Regions from separate parts of the Homo sapiens genome. Here all the other regions are linked to region 1. Evidence: fine-mapped expression QTL. A gene starts in region 1. Each other region holds a variant in brackets. All regions are shown on one strand. Distances are between the middles of the regions.

Region 1 (5,131 bases):
TTTTTTTTTTTTTTTTCTGAGACAGTCTCAAGCAATTCTCACGTTTTGGCCTCCTAAGTAGCTGGGACTACAGGCACGTGCCACCATGCCTGGTTAATTTTTGTATTTTTTTGTAAAGATGGGGTTTCCATGTTGTCCAGGCTGGTCTCAAACTCCTGGGCTCAAGCGATCTGCCTGCCTTGGCCTCCCAAAGCAAAGTGCTGGGATTACAGGTGTGATCCACTGCACCTGGCCTATCTGACACATTTTTAAGCAAGTGTGTTAAAGGTGGACAAGAATGAAGAGTTACCATTTTCACGCCAATCCTGAGCTTTAAACTTCACAGACATAGTGACAAGTATTGATTTCTTGCATATGCAGAATTTTACTGAAGATTTCCCATATAATTTTCAACAGAAAGATCATTTTTGAAAGTACAAGATTATGTTGGCTTTTTCATACAATGAAGTACACAATAGCAAACATTCCTAAAACAAAGGTGATCTTTCCAATAGTCTTCAGGACATGTTAAGTCTCTCTGTTACTGAAGTGGCATTCCCTTCACCAGGAAGCTGTCTCCAACTACTTGAGCCAATATTAACCTTTTCCTTCATAATCACATCAGTTCTGGCCAACATCCTACCACTGGAAAAATGATTGTACGAGGTCTTATGTTGGTCTCCAATTGTTTTCCATCTATGTTTTACCTTGTTAAACAACTGTAAGCTTCTCAAAAGAGGTTAACTATTTTTTTATTTAGCACTTATTACACAATATAATGCTGCACAAGAATACAGAAAATTTCATTTAAGAAGACTAGTGTTCATATATTTGATTTCTAGTCCTCTTTCTGAAGTGTTGTTTCTGCACTTAGGATAGCCCCATGAGTCCAGGTGTTGACAAACAGAAAGAATCAAGTTTTGGAAAACCTAAACAGAAACATCATCACATTCAAAAACTAAAACTGAGAAATTAGATACTGATCTGAAAATTGCTTCCCTTCTCTAATAACCATAGCTACCACTAACTCGCCTCTCCTCTCCCCATCCCAACACACTCAACTAACCGAAAAAAATGTACGGATAATTCATGCACAACATGCAAGAATTCTTTGCCCAAATTTTCAAGCTAACTACATTCTTTGCCCATATTTTCCTACTTGAGTATAAGAAGGAAAAATATAGGATGGAAGCTAGTCTTTTGAAGTCTACTACTTGCCAGGTACATTGCTAGCAATTTTACACACGTCATAGCATTTATTATCCATATTTTGCCAATGAGACAATTGAGGCTGAGTTTTAAAAGATGACCTAAGGCCAAAGTCTTTGGCTCCCCGCTCCACAACTACCCTCAGCTGGAGTTTGTTCCACAGTTCAGTCGCTCATTGAGAAAACATTTATTGAGGGTGTATTACAAGCTAGTCACCCCTCTAGGCATTGGAGGTCACTCATTGAGAAAACATTTATTGAGGGTGTATTACAAGCTAGTCACCACTCCAGGCATTAGAGTTTTGAAAGTATGCAAGACAGAACAAGCCCTGCTACTCTCATAGAACTTACACGCTAGAGATGAAAGAAAACAACCAAACAGGATAAGTTCAGAGTTATAATAGTTTGCCAACATGAGTTATGCACAATAATCATCAAATCTTTTAAAATATCTACAATGAGATTAAATAGTTACAAAAAAAACTAAAGGGGGTGGTAACACTCACTAACAATTGGTAACACTGTGGCCCTTTTGTCAATTCCTGAACCAAGCCATTGCATCTTTGAATGAATCACAAGGGAGAAAGAAGGAAGCAGAGCTCTAATGCTGTTTAGAATTTCTTTATAAAATAAAGTGACTCTATAAGCTATGAGAATGGACAGTTGCAATGAATCCATTGTTGGTTCTCAAACCCAAAACCCCATATTTACCCATTTATTCATTAAAATATTGCTGTATTATTTCACGAGTTGATTTGTAAAAGTCAAGGGAGTGTTGTAATTTGACATAACGCCCCTGTGAGAAACAGAGGGGGGTTTCAACATCCACATCACAAGGTTCCCCAGACTGCACACGGTCTCCATTGGGCAATGGCATCCAGATGTCATGTGGTAGCCAGCAAGAACTGTAGGACTGGGACTAGAGTGGTCAGTAGCTACGAAGAAGTGCCTGGGCCCAGTGTGACAGCTGCCAGCACCGTCCACACGCCAAAAAGAAACTTCACATCTCTTTAAACTTGGAACACATGCAAAATACTAACAGTTTTGTTTTAGCAATAAAGACTCCCTGTCACTTACTAACTTCCTTCCCTCACCTATTTATACAAGTATAAGTTGACTAGCTGCTATTTCTATAGCTGCCTCCTATGATATTTATAATGTGTTGTGTGTGATTTGGGTTGCCCATGTCACTAACACTTTGCAAGAATTTGTGTTTGTAAATTACTCTGGAACTCTTCTGGGAGTGAATATTCCACTGCACAAGGTGGAAGCCAGACTAGAGACCATCTGCTAAGAGCAGCACTTCATTCACCCAGCTACACCTTCCTGCCAAAGCACTCTTTGCAAATCTATTTTTGCTGGTAGAAGTTACTACATAGGGAGTGGAGGCTGTTTTAAGTTATCAGTGTGCACCTTCCATTTCCTCCTAGGACGGTCACACGCCAGCAGCTGAGTTTCTCAAAGAAGCCTCAGCCCTCCTCCAGACTCGTTCTCACTCTTGCTTCGGAAGGGAGCAACAATCCTTATCAGACTAGCCGCATCTACAAGCTAAAAGTTTGCATGAACTTTCAATGGGGTACCAACCCTCGCCCCAAAAGTCCTGCCACTTTACTATTTTACAAATGCCGCCTCCAAAACATAAACAACGAAACCCTAGAGAAGAGCGAATCCATCTTCTGCTGGTGGGAAGAAATTCTAAATCTTTCCCGTTTCCCGCCACCACCTACCGCCAAGACTGGAGTCCCAGAACACTCGCCCGGGTCAGAAAGGGACCACTCCCCCCCTAGAATACTAGAGGCGGGGGAAGGGGTCTCCCAGGAAGCACACACCTGAGATAGATCCTCACGCGCGAGGGGCCAGCGGGCAGGAGCACCCAGTTCCTCCAGCCAGGGTGGAGTCGGCCTCCCCCCAGAATCAGAGCCTCGGCCCGGGTGCTCCCAGCGAGGCGCGCGGGGCTGTCACTCGAGGCGGGCTGGGCGGGTGTAACTCGAGCGCCGGGCGGGCCGCGCCCCCGCCTTCCCTCTTCCCGACTTCCTCCTCCCGCTCCCGCGCCTGCTCCCTCCCGGAGGCCTGACCAGGGCGGCGAGGCCGCCACCTCCTGCCCGGATACCTCGGGCCCAGGCTCCTCCGGCCCAGCGGGGAAACGCGGAAGTGGGGGCGGGAACCGGGGCCGGGGTTGGCGGGGGTGTGGGAGGGAAAAGCCAACAGCGGGCGGCGAGCGAGGTGGTCTCCGTGGCCCAATGAACGTGACTAGACGGGGACGCGGGTCCTGCCGCCGGGTGGGGTCGCGCAGCGCCACACGCAAGGGCCCTCGCCCCTGGCTGCAGTTCCTGCTTTGTGCCTCGGCGATGCCGGACTCCAGACCTCCGCCCCGCCTTGCCAGCGGGCTGGCGGACTGGAAAGCCTGAGCTAGGCCAGGCTGGGGAAGACGGTGGCGGTGTCCGATTTCCTGTGCCCTCGCCCATGCGGGCCGCCCTGGCCATCTGCCTGCGGGAGAGGAGACACTCGTCCGCCGGCACGCTGGCGGGGCTGGCTTACCTGACGACTTCTCGTTGTCCGCCCTGGGATCTGGCTTCTCCTACTCTGTACCTCCCGGCCGGCAGGCTTCCCTAGGCCTACAGACGTGTCCAGGAGGCGGGCGACCCTGCGACCCCGCCGTCAGAGCCCAGAACCCTCGCCCGGCTCCCCCGGCGGGCTCTGGAGGCGCGCCAGGCCTCCTGGCTCCCCGCCTGAATGTCAGCGCAGGGACCCGCAGGGAAGACCAAGCCCAAGCTCCAGGGGGTGGAATGCTGAGCACAGGTTCCCCAGACCCAGCCTCATACAGGTGGGGGGAGGCGGAGAGCCCCGGCAGCTGAACAGCAGGCTTCCCACTTGCAACCCCCCGCCACCCAAAAAAAAAAAACGACCCTGCCCACTGAGCATGCCCAGCTTACTTGTTGGAACTCCTAGGGCTAGACAAGCCCAAGGGGACCTAAGGAAGGCAAAGTTGGGGCTCAAATGGACCCCACTTCTTTAACAGCTTTGCTCCGAAGACCTCTGGGTGCTGTACTAATAACCTTTCTATCGTGGTATTGGAAAATATCCAGGAGATGGACGGAAATGCCTTTCCAAAAGAAGGAAGAAAATTAGTGTGAACCAAAAAGCAGTGGTATTTTTTTAAATAAAGTATTAAGTCACTCATTTAATGTCCTTAAATACCGCAGAATTCCTGTAGTTGACCCAGAGGAATGCATATATTTATTAAATCCCAAACTCAGTAACTTCAGGGAACCATCCATAGTCCACAGAGGAGCAATGATTCTCACCCTTGGACACATTAAAATTGGGGGGAGGGGGCAGGGAGGGGTGGAATGCCAGATTTCCATCCCCAAGTCCAATGAGTCAGTCTGGACGTGGGATCTGCAAGTCCTTGTATTTTAAAACTGGCTCTAAAAGTGTAGTCACTGGAGCCCGCAGCATCAGCATCACCTGAGAACTTGACAGAAACTGTACTCCAGTGACCTGATTCATAGACTCTGGGGCTGGGGCTGAGCTACCCAGATTTAACAAGCCCTTTGGGTAGTTCTGATGCACATTAAAGTTTGAGAACCACGGTTTAAAAGCTCCCCCAGTTGAATCATGAGCAACCAGAAAAAGGAAATTGTAGTTGAGAAAAGAAAAATAGTTCAGAGCATTTGAGCAATGTGAGGTATGCAAAATTTATCAGGCCCAGAGAGACCTTGAATATGGGACATAAGTTGCACCCCCCACACTCATGCTCAGAGGCGATTGTTTAAAGGCATTTTGTTCATGACTGACTACCCAACCATATCTTCATGTTCCTGGAATTTGTGATACGAAGAACAATCTATAGACAATTAATAGTTTGTTTTTTTATGTAAATTATTGGTAAACAATTTAGAAACTGCCTCTTCTTTTCCTTTAAAAACTTCCTTGTGGCCGGG
Region 2 (5,131 bases), 31 kb after region 1:
ATGCAAATTTTTTACTTCAACATGCACATTTTTGGGCAACAAAATTTAACTCATAACACAATAGCCTACCTGGCCTCACCCAAACTTCACCCAGCAGCCAAGATCCTTCAGGAGCTGGCTGCATTTGCCTTTCTTGTCTTTTTTTTTTTTTTTTTTTTTTACCAGGTGCAGTGGGGCAATCACAGCTCACTGCAGCCTCAACTTTCCAGGCTCAAGAGATTCTCCCACCTCAGCCTCCCCTGTAGCTGGGACTACAGAGGTGCACACCACCATGCCTGGCTAGTTTTTTTACTTTTTGTAGAGATCATGGGCAGGGGGTGGTCTCCCTATGTTGCCCAGACTGGTCTCAAACTCCTGGGCTCAAGCCATGCATCCAGGTCGGTCTCCCAAAATGCTGGGATCACAGGCCAGAGCCACTGCACCCAGCCTGCAGTCAGCATTTCTAACCAGTTCCCAGGCGATGCTTTCAAGACCTCTTTTAGCACTACATGTTTTCAGCTTAATCAAACTTTTTTATTTTCTCCTAAACTGCAAACTTTCCATATTTCAAAACAATATAAAAAGTTCTCAGACTATTAATGCGGAGAAGAATCTTGGTAATTTAGAACACTACTTTTGGCCAGGCTCAGTGTCTAACGCCTATAATCCTAGCAGTTTGGGAGGCCAAGGTGGGCAGATTACTGGAGCCCAGGAGTTCAAGACCCGCCTGGGCAACATAGCAAAACCCCATGTCTACAAAAAATACAAAAATTAGCCAGTGTGGTGGCGCATGCCTGTAGTCTCAGCTCCTCGGGAGGCTGAGGTGGGAGGATCATCTGAGCCTGGGGACCTCAAGGCAACAGTGAGCCGTGATTGCACCACTATACTCTAGCCTGGGTGACAGAGCAAGACCCTGTCTCAAAAAAAAAAAAAAAAAAAAAAAAAAAATTACAGCATGGAGACAGCAGAGGATTAAATAAGTGCAAGGATTCACTAACATTTGGGAGCAAAAGAGTAATATAATAAATGCAATGATTAAGAAAAATAGACATTTTTGGAGAGTAATTTTGCAATATTTAAAATGTACTCACCCTTGGATTTAGCAATTTTTCTCCCAGGAATTTATCCTGCAGGTGTTCTCATACATGAACAAAATGGCATTCATTCAAGGCATTCACTGTAGCATTGTTCCTACTAGCAAAAGATTAGAAACAGTCTAAATGTCCTCTGCCAAAGAACTGGCTCAGGTAATTATGGTACCTCACTGTCTTCATGCATCTTACAATTACAGCTAGGTTCTTTATTTCCATGCTTTGATTCTAATCCTTAGGAAACTTGGCCTTGGGGTACTGCTTATTATTGTGAGATAGAAAAAATAATGTTTTAATTCCTAGTCCATAAAAGACAGTTTAAAAAATGAACATAGAGCCACTAAAAAGATAAAGTTAGCTCTATGTGTTCTAAGAAGGATAATTTTCCAAGATATATATTTCTGGGGGGAGAAAAGGATATGAGCATAACAGTATGTATAGTATGTACCATTTGTGCTTAAAAATAAATTGCATGTCTCTCAAAAAAGAGATTAAAAAAATTTTTTTAATAAAAGTTGCAATGTTTATATCCACATAGAAATATTTGTGAAGGGAAATACAGGACACTGATAACAATGGTTTCCTCTAGGAAAGGAAACCTGGGATCTGTTGCTGAGGCTGGAGTGCAGTGGTGCGATCTCAGCTCACTGCAACCTCCACCTCCTGGGTTCAAGAGATTCTCCTGCCTCAGCCTTCCGAGTAGCTGGGATTACAGGCATGAGCCACCATGCCTGGCTAATTTTTGTATTTTTTAGTAGAGACGGGGTTTCACCATGTTAGCAAGGCTGGTCTCAAACTCGTGACCTCAGGTGATCTGCCCGTCTTGGCCTCCCAAAGTGCTGGGATTACAGGCTGAGCCACTGTGCCAGGCTAGGCATACTTTTCAATGAATACTCTCTCATACCTTTTGAATTTTGCACCATACATGTGGGTTTCTTATGAAAAAAACATATATTTTAAAAGACCCAAATAACTTGGGAAGAAGAAGAAGAAAGAGCTTTAGGAAGGGAAGTGAAAGCTATTTCTGCCAAGCGGCACAGCTCTGAAGTAGTTGAATAAATGCTTCACCCAGAGATGAGAGTCAAGAGAAAGGTAAAGAATTCCCACTCACATTTCCTCCACCATGAGGACTCTGTATGGATTTAAAATTAATTCAATTTTGGAATAAAGAAATGACTGAATTTTCCAAAATTAAGGAAGGAAGAAAGAAAAGGAGGGAGAGAGAGAAGTAGGGGAGGGAAAGGAAAAAATGCAATTGGTAGCAGCATGCAGGATGGCAGAGGAAATCTGAGGTTTCCTGGGTAGCCCAGGGAGTGAGCTGATAATTGTCTGCACTGTGTAGGAGAGATTGGCATGAGGAGGGAGAATAAGAGTCAGTGCCATTTTAAAAGGAGAAATCAGGCTTGTTGACTAATTGGATATGCTTGAGAACTAGGAATGAGCATATCGTGAGCAGGATGATTTTGCAGTGACAGCTTTCCAGGAAAAATTGCTGCATTCTCAACATCTGCATGCATCTGAGAATTACACCTGGATTCTTCACTTCCATGCCTTGATTTTAATCCTTAGGAAAGTAGGCCTTAGGGTACTACTTGTGATTCTAAAATGGAATAAGTAATGATTTAATTCCCAGCCAGTAAAGGGCAATCCAAATGACTGGCTCCACCGTTTCCCTAGGGCTAGTTTGTAACCTGGGACAGAAATAAGCTGTGTGTATTAAATCAATACGATCACTCACAGGTGAAAAAAAAAAAAAAGGCATTGCTTTGGTGACTTTGTATTATATGAACTATTTCTGTTTCTGAACTGTTTACTTTCTTCAGATGATATAAGCCTGGCCACTTTTCTATGATGAGCTAACACCAGCTAGGAACTTGGTACCT[T/C]GAGCAAGTGCTCCAAGGTGCTATGATGCAACTTACAACCCCTGCCTGTCGCACTGGGTGTCACAATGGCCAGGCTTGCCTAAAAGAGAAGATTGTGTAACACTTCACAGTGCTCAAGTGCTTTCCTTCTCTCTACCAGCTTCAATGGGAGCTTCTTATCTGAGCATGGGAACAGAGCAGACCAGGGGAAGTGTTAGTGTGCACCACCCAGAAGGCACTGTTGGTCATCCTCTGATCTCTTCAAGCTTGATCACGTGGATAATGAAATCACTGCCTACTACAGCATTCCCGATGTGAAACAGGATTACTACACAGTATATCTATGAAACACTGTGACATATGTGTTTGTCATGTTTTATTATTCAGAATTAGCAAAAGAAGTGGGGCTCTGCCTGCCTCCACAGATGCCACTGTCCTGTTTCTCCAACTTTGGCTCCTCAATTCTTGTCATTCCCTAAGGCTGCGTCCTCAGCACTCTTTTCTCTGTGTGATATTCTCCATTTCCACATTTTTGCATTTCACCCATCAGGTGATTGACTTCCAAATCCACTTCTGTAGCCTTGATTTCTCCTGGGGTTGATCTAACCACCTAGCAGGCACCTCTTCCTACTTACTTCAAAGTCAGAATTTCCAAAAATGAGCGCTTTACACCACCCCTTTCCTTCCAGTATTTTCTCTTCCTTACTTTTCTACACTACACCCCAAGTCTATCAAGCACGTAAGGTAGATTCCTAGAGTAATTTTTCTTCCTCCTTCTGTCTTGCCATGCACCTCATGCTAGAGCTGTGGCCTTGGTTCAGGACCTCGTCACCTCTCTACTCCTATTCTAACTACCTCTTGAATGGATTTCTCTATTTTTAGTTTCTCCTCTTTCTACTTCTCTGTCACACTGTTGCCTGAATATTCCTTCAAATGCTCCGAACCTTCTTTGCAACAGAGTTTACCTTATTCCAACAAGCTGGGAATGTGTCCTAAAAATTTTCTCATGGTTTTTGTTGTCTCCTTGTAGTGTTATCATCATCGACGAATTTCTCTAAATGTAAATGTTTCTTTTTTTTTTTTTTGGAGACGGAGTCTCACTCTGTTCCCTAGGCTGGAGTGCAATGGCACAATCTTGGCTCATCGCAATCTCTGCCTCCTGGGTTCAAGGGATTCTCCTGCCTCAGCCTCCTGAATAGTGGGATTACAGCCGCACCACCATGCCCAGCTTTTTTTTTTTTTTTTTTTTTTTTGGTATTTTTAATAGAGACGGGGTTTCACACATTGGCCAGGCTGGTCTTGAACTTCTGACCCCAGGTGATCCACTCACCTCGGCCTCCCAAAGTGCTGGGATTATAGGGGTGAGGCACCACACTTGGCCTAAACTTTTCTTAAACTTTAATATTATTAGTCTATATCACATCCTGGGTAATGAGTTATCTAAGTTTACCATGTTTGGGGTAAAACTGTTTCTCAATTTGTGTTAAGATTCTAGCAAAATACTGCTCAAACTAAGTTTAAAGGCTAATTTTGTTGTTGTTGTATGTTTTTTAGAGACATGGTCTTGCTCTGTTGCAAAGGCTGGAGTGCAGTGGCACAGTATAGCTCACTGCAGCCAGCCTCAAACTCCCAGGCTCAAGCAACCCTCCAACCTTAGTCTCCCAAGTAGCTGGAACTACAGGTGTGTACCACCACACCTGGGTAATTTTTTTTTAATTTTTAATTTTTATTTTTTGTAGAGACAAGGTCTCACTATGTTGCCCAGGCTGGTGTCAAACTCCTGGCCTCAGTTGATCCTTCTGTCTCGGCCTCTCAAAGTGCTAGGATTACTGGTGTGAGTTACTACACTTAGCCCACCACTTATTGTTTAAGGGCAATTTACTGACTCATATAAACACAAAATCCAGAATTTTTTCTAGTCGGGCATGGCTGCTTCTAGTGGCTCAATATCATATTAGGAATATGTTTGTCTCTTTCTTCTGGACAACCCAAACTATACACTCAACCTGTTTGAACAACCCAGCAAAAAGACAGTTTTTACTTAAAACTTCTGCAAGAGAGTTTCGGCAAGGACTTTTCATTGTCCCAGATTTAGTCACATACCCATCTCTAAGAAAGTGCAGTGCCAAGGGAAAATATTTGACGAGACCTGTTTTACACACCTGCTATTGTGACAGAGAAATACAGAAAAAGAGGCAA
Region 3 (5,131 bases), 180 kb before region 1:
AAGAAGTCAAGAAAATCCATCACATATTCTGATTTGATAGCTTTTCACCTGTCCCGTTGTGATCCTGGACAAGTTACTTTTTCTTGTCTCATCCATAAAATGAGGATATTCATTATAATGACCACCTCAAAGGACTATCACCAGGACTGAGTAATCCAGTTTATGTCAAATGCTTAGAACAATGCCTACAACATGTGTAAAATTCAACAAATATTAGTTATCATTCATTAAGCAAAGTAGAATACAAACTATACAAACAATCTAAAATCCAGTATATCAGTGTATTCCATACACCACTTAGCCACTTCCTTTCCTGCTACATGTTCTATGACTTGCCTCTGTACCACTGGGCTCCAGGTTGCCAATTTCTTTTTGAGCCTTAGTTTTCCCATCTATAAAATGGGATTAATACTATTGATTTACTCTAGCTAAGAGGACTGTCAATACAGAAACAAAATGTTTAAATGTTGCTTGCAGATCTTTAGAAAAAAGATGCTTTGGTATACACCAAGAATTATTTTGGTATTTAGCATGTTAATATAATTTTCTTCAGCATCTTAGACTGTCTTATTTACGTACACAATTAGTGGAATGGAATGTGGAAAATGGTAGGCAGTGGTAAAACACAGGCCATTTTCCTGAGTGAAAAAAGGCCCATAACTCACAGGAGATGGATTGAGATGTGAAGGTCACTCACTTATTCACAGGAATAAATTATATTATACCATCAAGTAAGTTTCTTCAGCCAGTCGTAAAGAAGAATACGGCTAAGTAATTTACTCGCAAATGATGGTTGTAAGCCACTCACATTCTAACAAATCAAATTACATCATACAGACCACCTAGTCATGCTCACAGGGTTTCCAAATTGGGAGTGGGGAGCAGAGACACAGCCACTTTTGTTGGCTTCTCAATTCATACAAAGACCACTCCTGTTCATGACTGAAGATCAACACAGGATATTTAAATTGCTCTTCAAAGAGAAACCACTCCACTTTGATTCCCTTCTTGAATATCAAGTATCATACCTCTAAAGCTGCGTGCACAGATGAGGTATCTGCAAGGTCTGTGCAGAGCCCTTGTGTATTGGCATTGAGACTGAAGCCTTGAATAGTATAGTCTATCTTTGCTGAACTAACTGGGATGAAGAAATAGATTTTGGCCGATGTAAGCATTTTTAGTTTGAGGAGCTGAGAGGAGGCAGCTCCTAACAGGGCACACAACAACAAAAATAGATAATGGCCTTAGTCTGTTAGTGTGGCTATAACAAAACACTGAGATTGAGTAATTTATAAAGAACACAAGTTCATTTCTCACAGTTCTGGAAGCTATGAAATTCAAGATCAAGTTGCCAGCACTTGGTCTGTTGAGGGCCTTCTTGATAAGACCTTATATGGCAGAAAGCAGAAGAGCAAGCTAGCCAAATGCTTTGTGAAGGCTCTCTAATAAGGGATTTAATCCCATTAATGAAGAAGGTGTCCTCATGGCCTAATCACCTCTTTCAGGCCCCACTTCTTAATACCTTTTTTTAAATCTGAGTGTAATTAAATTCTCCTGTTAACACTATCAAAATGGCAACACTTGAATTTTGGAGGGGACACATTCAAACTACTGAGGTAGGAAGTATCGTATCTATTTTACAGATGAAAGAACTGAAGCTCCGAGAGGTTAATTCATTTGTCTGAATTTACACAGCTCAGTAAATGGCACTGAAAAATGTAATCCAGGTTTGCCTGTCTCCAAGGCCTATGCTCTTTCTAACAGGCTACTATGCCTCTCCAGGTAATCTGTGATCTGTGATGACAAATACCTTTCTTCTAGGGTGCCAACTCCAATTGGTAGATCTCGTCTCAGCAGAAAGAGAGCCATGATGGGTTAGAAATGAGAGGTGACAGCGTGCTGGCAGTCCTCACAGCCCTCGCTCGCTCTCGGCGCCTCCTCTGCCTGGGCTCCCACTTTGGCGGCACTTGAGGAGCCCTTCAGCCCACCGCTGCACTGTGGAAGCCCCTT[T/C]CTGGGCTGGCCAAGGCCAGAGCCGGCTCCCTCAGCTTGCAGGGAGGTGTGGAGGGAGAAGCGCGAGCGCGGGAACCGCGGCTGCGCGCGGCGCTTGCGGGCCAGCTGGAGTTCCGGGTGGGCGTGGGCTTGGCGGGCCCCGCACTCGGAACAGCCAGCCGGCCCTGCCAGCCCCGGGCAATGAGGGGCTTAGCACCCGGGCCAGCGGCTGCGGAGGGTGTACTGGGTGCCCCAGCAGTGCCAGCCCACCGGCGCAGCTCTCGATTTCTCACCAAGAAATCTTAGGTGATTTCTCGGTGTCTTAGCTGCCTTCCCGCGGGGCAGGACTTGGGACCTGCAGCCCGCCATGCCTGAGCCTCCCACCCCCTCCATGGGCTCCTGTGCCGCCCGAGCCTCCCCGATGAGCACTGCCCCGTGCTCCACGGCGCCCAGTCCCATCGACCACCCAAGGGCTGAGGAGTGCAGGCGCAGGGCGCGGGACTGGCAGGCAGCTCCACCTGCAGCCCCAGTGCGGGATCCACTGGGTGAAGCCAACTGGGCTCCTGAGTCTGGTGGGGACCTGGAGAACCTTTATGTCTAGCTCAGGGATTGTAAATACACAAATCGGCACTCTGTATCTAGCTCAAGGTTTGTAAACATACCAATCAGCACCCTGTGTCTAGCTCAGGGTTTGCGAATGCACCAATCCACACTCGGTATCTAGCTACTCTGGTGGGGCCTTGGAGAACCTTTGTGTGACACTCTGTATCTAGCTAATCTAGTGGGGAGGTGGAGAACCTTTGTGTCTAGCTCAGGGATTGTAAATGCACCAATCAGCACCCTATCAAAACAGGCCACTCGGCTCTACCAATCAGCAGGATGTCGGGGGGTGGGGGCAGATAAGAGAATAAAAGCAGGCTGCCGGAGCCAGCAGTGGCAACCCCCTTGGGTCCCCTTCCACACTGTGGAAGCTTTGTTCTTTTGCTCTTTGCAATAAATCTTGCTACTGCTCACTCTTTGGGTCCACACTGCCTTTACGAGCTGTAACACTCACCGTGAAGGTCTGCAGCTTCACTCCTGAAGCCAGCGAGACCACGAGCCCACCGGGAGGAACGAACAACTCCAGAAGTGCCGCCTTAAGAGCTTAACACTCACCGCGAAGGCCTGCAGCTTCACTCCTGAGCCAGCGAGACCACAAACCCACCAGAAGGAAGAAACTCCGAACACATCTGAACATCAGAAGGAACAAACTCCGGACACACCGCCTTTAAGAACTGTAACACTCACCGCTAGGGTCCGCGGCTTCATTCTTGAAGTCAGTGAGACCAAGAACCCACCAATTCCGGACACAGAAATACCTACCAACCAGGAGGCGGAGCTTGCAGTGAGACGAGATCGTACCACTGCACTCCAGCCTGGGTGACAGAGCAAGACTCCGTCTCAAAAAAAAAAAAAAAAAAAGAAAAGAAAAGAAGAAAAAAAGAAATACCTACCAAGAGTGAGAGTTTGGAGAATGGGGGCCATGCTAATTGGCTTGCCACCCCTGATTTAGCCTGACCTTCTAATGTAACAGATAAGGAACCTGAGAACCTGAGGATGAATTGAGTGGCCCAGAGTCCTGTGATATCAAGCAGCATAGTAACAGTTAGAATCCACGTCCACTGCCTGAGCACAGACCTTCTCTCTCTATCCCAGGATGCTAGTAATAAGAAATAATGTAATCATTTGCACACCTCTGACCTTACCAATATGCCTGGCACTTACTTACACCAGTTGTCCAAGACATTTAGTATATTGTCTTTCACCAAAGACAATAAGACAACTTTATATCACTCTTTTTGTTCTGTTTTATCTTAACTGTAGATATATATGTTTTACTGTTAAGAATTCTAACAATACAGAGGTATAGATGGTAATTAAATTGTCACCTTCATTAACTCCCATTCCTTTCTTTTCCCCAATATAACCACTTTTAACAGTTTCAAGTCTCCTTTAAGAACTTTTCTATGTATATCATAGATGTCCATGTGCAAATACAGAGCTTTAGGGCTTAAATTAAATGTGGTCATACCATAGAAACTGCATTGCAACTTGCATTTTTTAACTTCGCAATTGTATCACCTTTCTACTTTATTACGTAGTGCCTCTTGGAGCTCTTAAAACACCTGTTGAGGGAACATAATTTGCAAAAATCTAAACGTGTGCCCTCTAAAGTTGTCTTTACTTGAAGAGAATACACCTGGCAATTTATCCACATGTATGAGAACATTAAGACTATCTATGAGGAAAAACATTTTTTAAAGCATCATTTCTTACTTTAGAATTAAGCCAAAATCCTGAGAGTAACTTTTGACATGACCATCCTCACATATCTTTCTCCACTCATCATCAATTTCCTTCCATTTCATCTGTCAGATAGCTCTTAAACCTTTCCATTCTCCCTGTTCTCCACTGCCACACCCTAGACTAAACTATCGTCACCCCTTATCTAGACTACAGCAGTTCCTTCCAACAGCCTTCTTGTTTCTTCTGTGGCTGCTTCTAGTTCACTTTTCATTCTGCCACTAGTATAATCCAATTTACATAACCAACTTATTGTATTGTTTCTTTCTTTTGAAGTATTTAACAATTTGCAGTTTACAATCTGGTCTTGCCCCATATTTCCAAACTGAATGTTTTAATTTCTAGAGAAATCAAGACTCAGAAAAAGTACATTATAGTGTTGCAAGCTGTAGATTCTTCTCTTTTCAGGAGTATTTCTGGGAGTTGCATTTTATGGGAAACACTAACTCAGGCAACTGACTGTAACATTCGTTATGAGACAACTTTTTTTCCCTTAAATTGGAAGAGTGTTGTTAATCCTCAAGGATTACCTATTTATCTTAAAACATTTTGCCTAGCCATATGAATTTTAATTCTTCTTCTGATGTGTTATAATTACATTGCCCAAGATAGCTAAGAGGGTAGTATATGTATATATACCAATTATTATTTACACAAGTCATTTATTGTTGATTTTCTTCTCTATAAACATTATATTCTTTCATTTAGTCCCAGAAATTGACATAAGATGTTGAGCAGCAGGTTGTTATTGACTTTTTATTTCCAACCCAGAGATTTTGAAAGTAACATTTTGTTGTTT
Region 4 (5,000 bases), 44 kb before region 1:
ATTATCTTTATTTTATGAAGAAATTGGAATTCTGAAATTTTTTATAACCTACACACGCTACAACAGGTTCACCAAAACCCAGCCACATTCACATAACAGACACATTCAGGAAGCTAAATGTTGCTTTATTTGGGGTCTATTCAAATAAATCCTAAATTAGATCTTATTTTGACTAGAGTTGATCATTCTTTTTTGTTATTTTTGTTTTTTGTTTTTTTTTTGTTTTTTGCTTCTTGTCCAATCTTATCTTTTGCTACTGCCTTTAAAACTTTTGAGTCATTGGTACTACTAATCAAAAAGCACTACTTCGTTAGAGCTCTTACAAATAAGGTATGGAGAGGGAGAGATTGCAATTACAAGTTAAAACAACGTTCTCAAAATTCCTGCTGATTTTAATTATCCATGCATCACTTTGCCTCTCATTAGCATAAATATTTTTCCTCCTGGGTTTTGCTGACACTAACAAAGGTAGTATAGGCTTACCTGTATTTCAACTCACCTAACACATCACTGTTATCAGGGTTTTTTTTCATATTCCCTTAATTAACACATATAACAGAGTGAACTATAGTATTTCCTAAGCCACTCACAAGCATAGAGAATTGATGTCTCTTACAAAGTGAGAGGCTATTTTGCAAATCATGAAGATCCTGTCATCAACACCTATTATAATATCAACATGCTCGAACATCACTGACTTTGGGAAAGAAGAAATTAGTTTAATTGCATTCCATTTCAAGCTACAATGATATATGAAAATTCAGATTTATCCCCCCCAAAAAAAGTTAGAGCTTTTTTCCCTAATATTGCCTGTTTTTAAAGAATGTTTCACCACAGAATTCCAATAAATGGCACTGATATTAATTTATCAAAGGAACTATATTCTTGTAACTTTTTAGCAACATATCAGTTATATAAATCAAGTATGCCATAATTCATATAAGCCTACATAGAAAAAAAGAAAGAAACAGTGGGAAATTCAAGGAACTTATTATAACAGTTAGAGAGGTTAAGTCAACAATTGGTGTTGATATTCTTGCTCATCCTCAGATCCGGAAGCAAGGAGAAAGGAAAACAGAAGAGTGTTGGTACACCTGTCTTTGAGCCATTCTTCTATAACCTAAAATGAAGGATATATCATTTGCTACTAATCCCAAAAGTTTTAACAAAGTATCCGTGAATGCAAGATCTCTAGTGACAAGAGCAACTTGCTTGCTGACTACAACCGCACTTTATATTCATATCCCTTGGGAATCTCATAAGAGGTAACACTTTTTGAAAGCTTCCTATGTTCCAGGAACTCTCCCAGGCTTCACTGCTTTTTAATAAACCTGTGCAGGAAGTACCACTGTTATCCCTATTTCATAGAAGGGAGAAAATGAGGCTGAGAGAATTTAAGAAAATCACCTATAGTCACTCAGCTATAAAGATACAGAACTAGCTGTTCACAATAGCCAAGATATGGAATCAACCTAAATGTCCATCAACAGATGACTGAATAAAGAAAATGTGGTATATGTATACATGATGGAATACTATTCAGTTATTAAAAAGAATGAAATAGGCCGGGCACAATGACTCACGTCTGTGATCCCCAGCACTTTGGGGCCGAGGTGGGTGAACTTGAGCTCAGGAGTTCAAGACCAGCCTGAGCAACATGGCAAGACCCCATCTCTATTTAAAAAAAAAAAAAAGAAAAAGAATGAAATCCTGTCATTTGCAACAACACAGATGAGCCTGGAGGACATTATGTTAAGTGAAATAAGTCAGGCACAGAAAGACAAATACTTCATGTTCTGACTCATATCTAGGAGCTAAAATAAATTGAGCTCATAGAAATAGAGAGTAGAACTGTTGGTATTAAAAGCTGGAAAGGGGAGGGGAGGGGGAAGACAGGGAGAGGTTGGTTAATACACACAAAGTTACAGCTAGATGGAATAAGTTCTAGGGCTTTGTAACACTATATGCTGAATATGGTTAACAATAATTTAGTGTATATTTTCAAAAAGCTACAAGAGAGGATTTTTAATGTTCACAACACAAAGAAATGATCAATGTTTGAGGTAATGGATATGCTAATTACCCTGATTTGATCGTTACATGTTGTATACATGCACAGAAATATCATTCTGCATTCCATAAATATGTACAATTATGACATGTCAAACAAAAATAAAGGAATAAATATGTAAATAAATAAAGGTAAGGAAACATACCTCAAAAAAGAAAAGTACAGCTAGGTGTTAGATGCAGGCAGTCTGCAGAGACTGCTCTAAAGATAACGCTCTTGGCCTTTTTGTTCCGTTGCTTATGAATGGCACACCAATCAATGAGAATTTCTTACTTCCCTGATTCTAAGAAGATAATTCCTCCCATTAAAAAGAGACCTTAGGAGGAATGATCTTCTTAGAATCAGGGTGCTTGTAATCCCAGCTACTTGGGAGGCTGAGGCAGGAGAATCGCTTGAACCCAGGAGGCAGAGGTTGCAATGAGCTGAGATCATGCCCCTGGCACTCCAGCCTGGGCAACAAGAGTGAAACTCCATCTCAGGAAAAAAAAAAAAAAAAAGAGAGAGAGATCTTGATTTTCATATTCTGAAGCTCACTCCTTGCCTATTTATGGTGCAGGGGGGAAAAAAATTTTCACATCCGGGCTTTGAGAAAGCTCTCAGTGGTTCTCAAGTTTTACCTCGGCTCACAAAGCCCAAAGCCACCACACCTTCAGACCAGGTCATGGAAGGAACAAACCTAGAATGTGTTATGTGAGAAAGACCACTCTTCTGACCCGAATAGATTTTTGTCATATCAACCACATCACTGAGGTTAAAGAAAAGCCTACATCATCACATCAGTTTTTCCAGTTAGGACCTAGAAGGTATGAAATAAATGTTAACTTAAAAAAAAAAGTGTTAAA[C/AC]AGTGCCGTTGGGCTATAATGAAAAGAAAAAAGACTAGGGTAGCCCCGTGTGAAATCCCTGTACTCCTTCCCACTCTATTCTTGTTTCATTCTCCCTGGCCACTCCCATCCCAACCTTCCCATCTTCCTGAGGACTCCTCATGGAGCCCTGACTTTAATGCTCTCTACTGCTGTTGCTCAAAAAGGTTTACTTGTTCTAAAAGTATCCCATGACCCCTTTTCCTAATTTAAATTTCCCTCTTCATCTACTCCATTCTCCCACCAGCCTGGAATTAGAAAAAGGAGACTCCTCTATGAAGTGCTACTTCCTTTCAGTAGACCTTAGACTGGATAAGATGACCTCCAAGTTTCATCCAATTAAAAGTGTATTATTAAACCAACCTATACTAAATAGTGAATCACAATCAACTTGATCTAAAAAATCTCCACACCACCACAGAGTGTCTCTGCTTGCTCCATTCCCAGTGGGGTTGGTTTCTTTGAGTGGTAAAATGCTTATATCGCAGTACTAAGACTCTTGTTCCTTGGCATACAGCTGGTCTGGGGAGAAGAAAACTCAAGCTCCCTTTGTGGAAACTGTCACCTGCTTATGGGTGGAAAATAAAGAAAAGGGGACAAGAAAATGAAGAAGAAGCCACTCTAAGACCACGCTAAAAGCCCTCAGATGCTTAACTGAGGAAGGCCTGGAATGTGGATGTTATCTGTGGCCACAAACCTCTGCAGGTGGACACAAGCAAAAGAAGTCAGCCAACCTTCATCTCCTTTCCTCATCAACTTCCTTGGTTGGAATTGAAGATTTAGGCTGCTCAGCTCCAAAAGAATAATAATAATAATTGCCCTCTCCTTAGGCTATAACAACCCTCACATTCCTCTATCTCTTCTAAATCTGACCTGTTTCCCTTAGAAAATAAAAATAATAAACCTCTAGAGTTCACTTGGCTCAACAGTGGGCACTATTCATCATTGATAAACCTAAGTAATAGCATTGTTAATATGCTTGTATGAAGAAAAGCCATACTATGAAGTAGAGTGAGACAAAAGCATCATTGCTACCACCTCTAACCCCTAACCTGCTCCCAGAAACACCAGTCTCCATGGAGGCCTCTATTCTCCCACCTACAATGGCTCTGATTCAGGCAACTGCATTAAAGGTAAGTGAAACCACATCTTATTCAATTTCAATCTGTCTTATGTTTAATTAATTTTTAAAGAATATACAATTGTTTTCTTTACATATATAAGGTAATTTAACTACAGAATTGACTCAAAGGTTTTCAGGAGCTGACCTGGCACCTAAACACTCATAGTACTATCTCATCACCAAAAATGTTTTAACAATGTACCAACTTTTATATTCAATCCATTTGTATTTAGAATATAGCCCCTGCTTTTATTTCAGGGAAGAAGCTTTGTCCTGGGAGTACCAAATGGCACAAGCCAGGGGCCAGGAAGACAGAGCATGCAAGAACACAGCAAAATGTGCCAGAACCAAAGTCAATAGGTGGCTCTCTAGGACATCAGGAACTTGGGGTTTCAAAACTAACTTATTCTTAATAAACGGCAGTTTATCAGTTGGAATCTTCTTAGGAAACTAGAAAAAATACAAAAATACAGTAGGTAAATATACCTGTAACAAGCCAATACTTAAACATCACTCTGCAGAAAAATGGAGCATACCTAGTCACATTTAAGGCCCCAGCTTCTACAAACAAAAGTGTAGCCAATTAATGTATCTCAAAGGGCAGATTTTTTTTTGACTATTGAAGTCAGGAAAATTCCCCCCCGCTAGAATGGCTCTTATTGGCAGATATTTTCTGAGAGAGGACAGCTGAGTTAATGGAGGCCTGTGGTCATTTTATGTCAATGTCTGGAATAGGTTGTTTCCTCTTCTCATTCTTGCTTTTATTTTTTATTATTATTATTATTTTTTGCCAGTCCCTATGGCTACATCGCACCTGCTACCCCCCAAATACATGCTAATGGCAGTATCTTAAAGGGACAGGAATCACCAGAAAAGAAATGCACATAGTTGGATTTCTTATGCAACTCATTGATTGCATATGCCTGTAGTAATCTTTTTCAACAGA
Region 5 (5,131 bases), 59 kb after region 1:
AGTTAAATTTAGTTTAAAAGAAAATTGTGTTTTAAAAAACCTATAATTAATATAATCAGAAATCTAAGAGAGATATCTGTAAATCAAGAACAATATGCTATTGAAGAAAAAGAAGTGGAGAGGAAAAGGGAAAAAAATAAGTCTCTAGAAATTAAAAAATATGTCAGCAGAAATTTTAAAAATTAATAGAATGTTTGGAATATGACGTTGGGGAAATCACCCAGAAAAAATACTAGCATAGGCAAAAAGGCCAGCCACAGGAGAGGAAAAATAAGATAATCAATTATGCTAACAAAAGAGGTTAAAAATCAGATCAATAAGACTTCCAGAGTAGAGGAAGAAAAAATGGATAGGAAAAATGATGAAAGAAATAATATAAGAAAATATTGTTACCAAAGAACACATTCTCACGAGTTCTTGGTACAATGGATAAAAAGAGACCGACATCAAAGCATATGATAACATTTTAGAACACCTGTGATAAAGGTAAGTGGAAGCAGACATCATATTCGAAGAATATATCCAAACTCAGGATGCCAGAAGAGTGAAAAAATGTTTTTAATGATCCAAGAGAAAATAATGTTTAGCCTTGAATTATTTACCCACCCACACTATCAACTGAGTGTAAGTAAAAATTGAAAAATTGATCAGACAAGGAACTTCTCAAGAAAAAAGAAAGCCCTCCAATGTATGATTTGTTTTACAAAAGTGAAGGAGTACACCACAAAAGGAGAAGTCTTAGGTCTAGAAAATAGTCAACATAGAGTGTTGCAAGGGGAATTCCCAAGACAATAGCTATGCAGAAGGTCTAGAAAGTAGTTGGTCTTTGATACTGCAATGATGGGGTTGAAGAGATATCACTAAAAAAAAAAAAAAAAAAAAAAAAAAAAAAATCAACCAAACCAAAAAGAAATAGGAACTTGATATATTTGACTCTATTGATACATTTCTCCTGTCAGTGGGGTAGTTGATTTTAAACTATCAATGTAAAGATTTTTGTAGGAATTCTGAACATCAGCTTTGGGAACTAATTTATGACTAAGTCCTCAAAAGCAATTGCAATGAAACAAAAATTGACAAGTGGGACCTAACTGAATTAAAGAGCTTCTGCACAGCAAGAAAAAGGAAAAAACTATCAACAGAGTAAACAGACAATCTACAGAATGGAAGAAACTATTCAGAAACTATGCATCCAGTAAAGGTCTAATATCCAGAATCTATAGGCAACTTAATTGAACAAACAAAAAACAAATAATCCCACTAAAAAATGGGCAAAGAATATGAACAGGCACTTATCAAAAGAAGACAATACAAATGGACAACACACATTTGAAAAAATGCTCAACATGCCTAATCATTAGAGAAATGCAAATCAAACCCACAGTAAGATACCATCTCATACCAGTCAGAATGGTTGTTATTAAAATGTCAAAGAAACAGCAGATGCTGTTGAGGTTGTGAATAAAAGGGAATGCTTATACACTGTTGGTGGGAATGTGAATTAGTTCAGCCACTGTGGAAAGCAGTTTGGAGATTTCCCAAAGAACTGAGAACTACCATTTGACTTAGCAATCCCCTTACTGTGTATATATCCAAAAGAAAATAAATTGTTCTACCAAAAAGACACATGCACTTGTATGGTCATGGAAGCACTATTCACAAAAGCAAAGACATGGAATCAACTTAGCTGCTCATCGACAGTGGATTGAATAAAAAAAAGTGGGTACATATATACCATGGAATACTACACAGCCATAAACAAGAATGAAATCATGTCCCTTGCAGCAACATAAATGCCCCTGGAGGTGATTATCGTAGGTGAATTAACACAGGAACAAAAAACCAAATACTGCATGTTGTCACCTGTAAGTGGGAGCTAAACACTGGATACTCATGAACATAAAAATGGCTACAGGGGGGACTATTGGAGCAGGGAGGGAGGCAAGGGGGCAAGAGTTGAAAAACTATTGGGTACTATGCTCAGTACCTGGGTGATGGGATCATTCACACCCCAAACCTTAATGTCACACAATATACCCAGATAGCAAACTTGCACATGTACCCTGTGAATCTAAAATAAAAGTTGAAATTATTTTGAAAAAAGATTTTTGGAGGGTGAATAATATTAGATATAAAGAAAGTAAAGCAAACATAACTATAATAACCACAAGAATAAACAATAATTAGCTCAGGAAATCAAAGTCATAGAAGAAAGGAAATGTAAATCATAATAAATTACATATTCATTTATAAATAATATTTATGTGGTAAGTTGTAGCAATATAAACAAATTTGTATTCATTTAACCAAAAATTGGGGGTAGAAGAATGCTAGATCTTTATCTTTTAGATTTAGGATGCGAAAAGTAAAGTCTCAAATCAGTACCTCTATAAATGGCATTAAAATGGTCAAGAGCTATGACAGTAGTCTTTTTTCTTTTTTGAGAGAGGGTCTCACTCTTTTGCCCAGGCTAAAGTACAGTGGCATGATTCATAGCTCACTGCAGCCTCCACCTCCCAGGCACAAGTGATCCTTCCACCTCAGCCTCCTGAGTAGTTGGGACTACAGGTATGGGCCATCACACCCATCTAAGACAGTAGAGTCTAGAAGAGATAGCTAAAAGAATGGAAAGTGTTTATCTCTGGGAAAATGAACTAAGAACTACTAGGAGAGGTAGAATGGAGGACTTCTGTGTTTGGATTTGTTTTTTAAAATTGTATCGTCTCTTAGTTTATTCGGGCTGCTATAATAGAGTACCATAAACTGGATGGCTTATAAATGACAGAAATGTATTTCTCATAGTTTTGGAGGCTGAGAAGTCCAAGATCAAGGCCACAGCAGATTCAGTGTCTGGCGAGGGCCTGTTTTCTGGTTCACAGACCAGCACCACCAGTTGTATCCTCATAGGTGGAAGGGGCAATGAGCTCCCAAGGGCCTCTTTTATAAGGAGACTAATATCATCCATGAGACCTCCACTCTCATGACCCAATCCCTTCCAAAGCCTCCACTCC[C/G]TAATATTATCACCTTGTAGGGTAGGATTTCACCATATAAATTTAGAGGACACAAACATTTAGGGCATAACATATGCATGTACTACTTTGATAAAATTCTAAAATAAAGGCTAAACTATTTACAAATTTGTGAGCCACGCTCAAAGAATTATTATAGTCTCTTTCTTCCATTCTAGAAAATAGATCTATATACAGCAATATAGTGATCATTTTTTATTGCTAAGAAACTTGAATTATAAGTTCCCACATCTTTAAAGTTCATATTGATTAACTGAGTCATTTTTTTAATTGGGAAAGACTAATAAACCATCCAGTGGTAGATACTACCTGTCATCTAAGACAAATGAAAGTTTGTTAATTATGCTTAAAACACAAGTATAAATAACTTTACCTCAACTACATAAAACAAATATTTGATGCATACTAAAAAACAGAGATATCTCAACAAGATTTCTATTTTCCTTCCCTCCCTCATTTCTTCTTTTCTTCCTCCCTCCCTCTTTCCCTTTCTCATTTCCTTTCTTTTTTGTTTCACATGTCTAAATTTTCCTATTTTTAAAACTTGAATGGATATTTCCCTTATAATAAAGAAACATCTATTAGTTTAAAACACGATTTAAAATAAAATATAGGAGGGAGTGGTTCCAAGATGGCCGAATAGGAGCAGCTCCAGTCTACAGCTCCCAGCATGAGCGATGCAGAAGATGTGTGATTTCTGCATTTCCAACTGAGGTACCGGGTTCATCTCACTGGGGCTTGTCGGACAGTGGGTGCAGCCCATGGAGTGTGAGCTGAAGCAGGGCGGGGCATTGCCTCACCCGAGAAGCACAAGGGGTCAGGTAATTCCCTTTCCTAGCCAAGGGAAGCCGTGACAGACAGTACCTCGCAAATTGGGACACCCCCACCCTAATACTGCACTTTTCCAATGGTCTTAGCAAATGGCACACCAAGAGATTATATCCTGTGCCTAACTCAGAGGGTCCCACGTCCACAGAACCTCACTCACTGCTAGCACAGCAGTCTGAGATTGAACTGCAAGGCAGCAGTGAGGCTGGGGTAGGGGCGTCTGCCATTGCTGAGGCTTGAGTAGGTAAACAAAGCCGCCAGGAAGCTCGAACTGGGTGGAGTCCACCGCACCTCAAGGAGGCCTGCCTGCCTCTGTAGACTCCACCTCTGCGGGCAGGGCATAGCTGAACAAAAGACAGTAGAAACTTCTGCAGACTTAAACGTCCCTGTCTGACAGCTTTGAAGAGAGTAGTGGTTCTCCCAGCATGGAGTTTGAGATCTGAGAATGGACAGACTGCCTCCTCAAGTGGATCCCTGACCCCCGAGTAGCCTAACTGGGAGACATCTCCCAGTAGGGGCCAACTGACACCTCATACAGCTGGGTGCCCCTCTGAGACAAAGCTTCCAGAGGAAGGATCAGGCAGCAACATTTGCCATTCTGCAATATTTGCTGTTCTGTAGCCTCCACTTGTGATAACCCAGGCAAACAGGGTCTGGAGTGGACCTCCAGCAAACTCCAACAGAGATGCAGCTGATGGTCCTGACTGTTAGAAGGAAAACTAACAAACAGAAAGGACATCCACACCAAAAACCCATCTGTACATCACCATCATCAAAGACCAAAGGTAGATAAAACCACAAAGATGGGGAGAAACCAGAGCAGAAAAGCTGAAAATTCTAAAAATCAGACTGCCTCTTCTCCTCCAAAGGAATGCAGCTCCTTGCCAGCAATGGAACAAAGCTGGATGGAGAATGACTTTGATGAGTTGAGAGAAGAAGGCTTCAGACGATCGGTAACAACAAACTTCTCCAAGCTAAAGGAGGATGTTCGAACCCATCGCAAAGAAGCTAAAAACCTTGAAAAAAGATTAGACGAATGGCTAACTATAATAAACAGTGTAGAGAAGACCTTAAATGACCTGATGGAGCTGAAAACCATGGCACAAGAACTATGTGACGCATGCACAAGCTTCAGTAGCTGATTCGATCAAGTGGAAGAAATGGTATCAGTGATTGAAGATCAAATGAATGAAATGAAGCGAGAATAGAAGTTTAGAGAAAAAAGAATAAAAAGAAATGAACAAAGCCTCCAAGAAATATGGGACCATGTGAAA

The links. PIP is the estimated chance that this variant, and not a neighbour inherited with it, causes the effect.
Region 2: its variant is fine-mapped to the expression of GPD2 in whole blood (TOPMed, PIP above 0.99).
Region 3: its variant is fine-mapped to the expression of GPD2 in whole blood (INTERVAL, PIP above 0.99).
Region 4: its variant is fine-mapped to the expression of GPD2 in whole blood (TOPMed, PIP 0.96).
Region 5: its variant is fine-mapped to the expression of GPD2 in whole blood (INTERVAL, PIP above 0.99).

The regions. Positions count from the first base shown.
Region 1 is chr2:156,434,399-156,439,529 of GRCh38, reverse strand. It overlaps GPD2 (glycerol-3-phosphate dehydrogenase 2), which reads right to left and starts at 3,151. Exons shown (of 17, transcript NM_000408.5): 1 at 3,017-3,151. RefSeq lists silencers at 3,030-3,439, 3,880-4,049 and an enhancer at 3,590-3,639.
Region 2 is chr2:156,403,741-156,408,871 of GRCh38, reverse strand. It overlaps a transcript of GPD2 not described here. Among named protein-coding and RNA genes, the nearest start is that of TRG-GCC2-2, 5.1 kb to the right of the region's middle. The variant T/C (reference allele first, on the strand shown) is at 2,954.
Region 3 is chr2:156,615,376-156,620,506 of GRCh38, reverse strand. No RefSeq gene overlaps it. Among named protein-coding and RNA genes, the nearest start is that of LINC01958, 49 kb to the left of the region's middle. The variant T/C (reference allele first, on the strand shown) is at 2,011.
Region 4 is chr2:156,478,343-156,483,342 of GRCh38, reverse strand. The region is part of intron 2 of GPD2 (glycerol-3-phosphate dehydrogenase 2); the gene reads right to left. Among named protein-coding and RNA genes, the nearest start is that of GPD2, 44 kb to the right of the region's middle. The variant C/AC (reference allele first, on the strand shown) is at 2,914.
Region 5 is chr2:156,374,911-156,380,041 of GRCh38, reverse strand. No RefSeq gene overlaps it. Among named protein-coding and RNA genes, the nearest start is that of TRA-CGC3-1, 23 kb to the left of the region's middle. The variant C/G (reference allele first, on the strand shown) is at 3,012.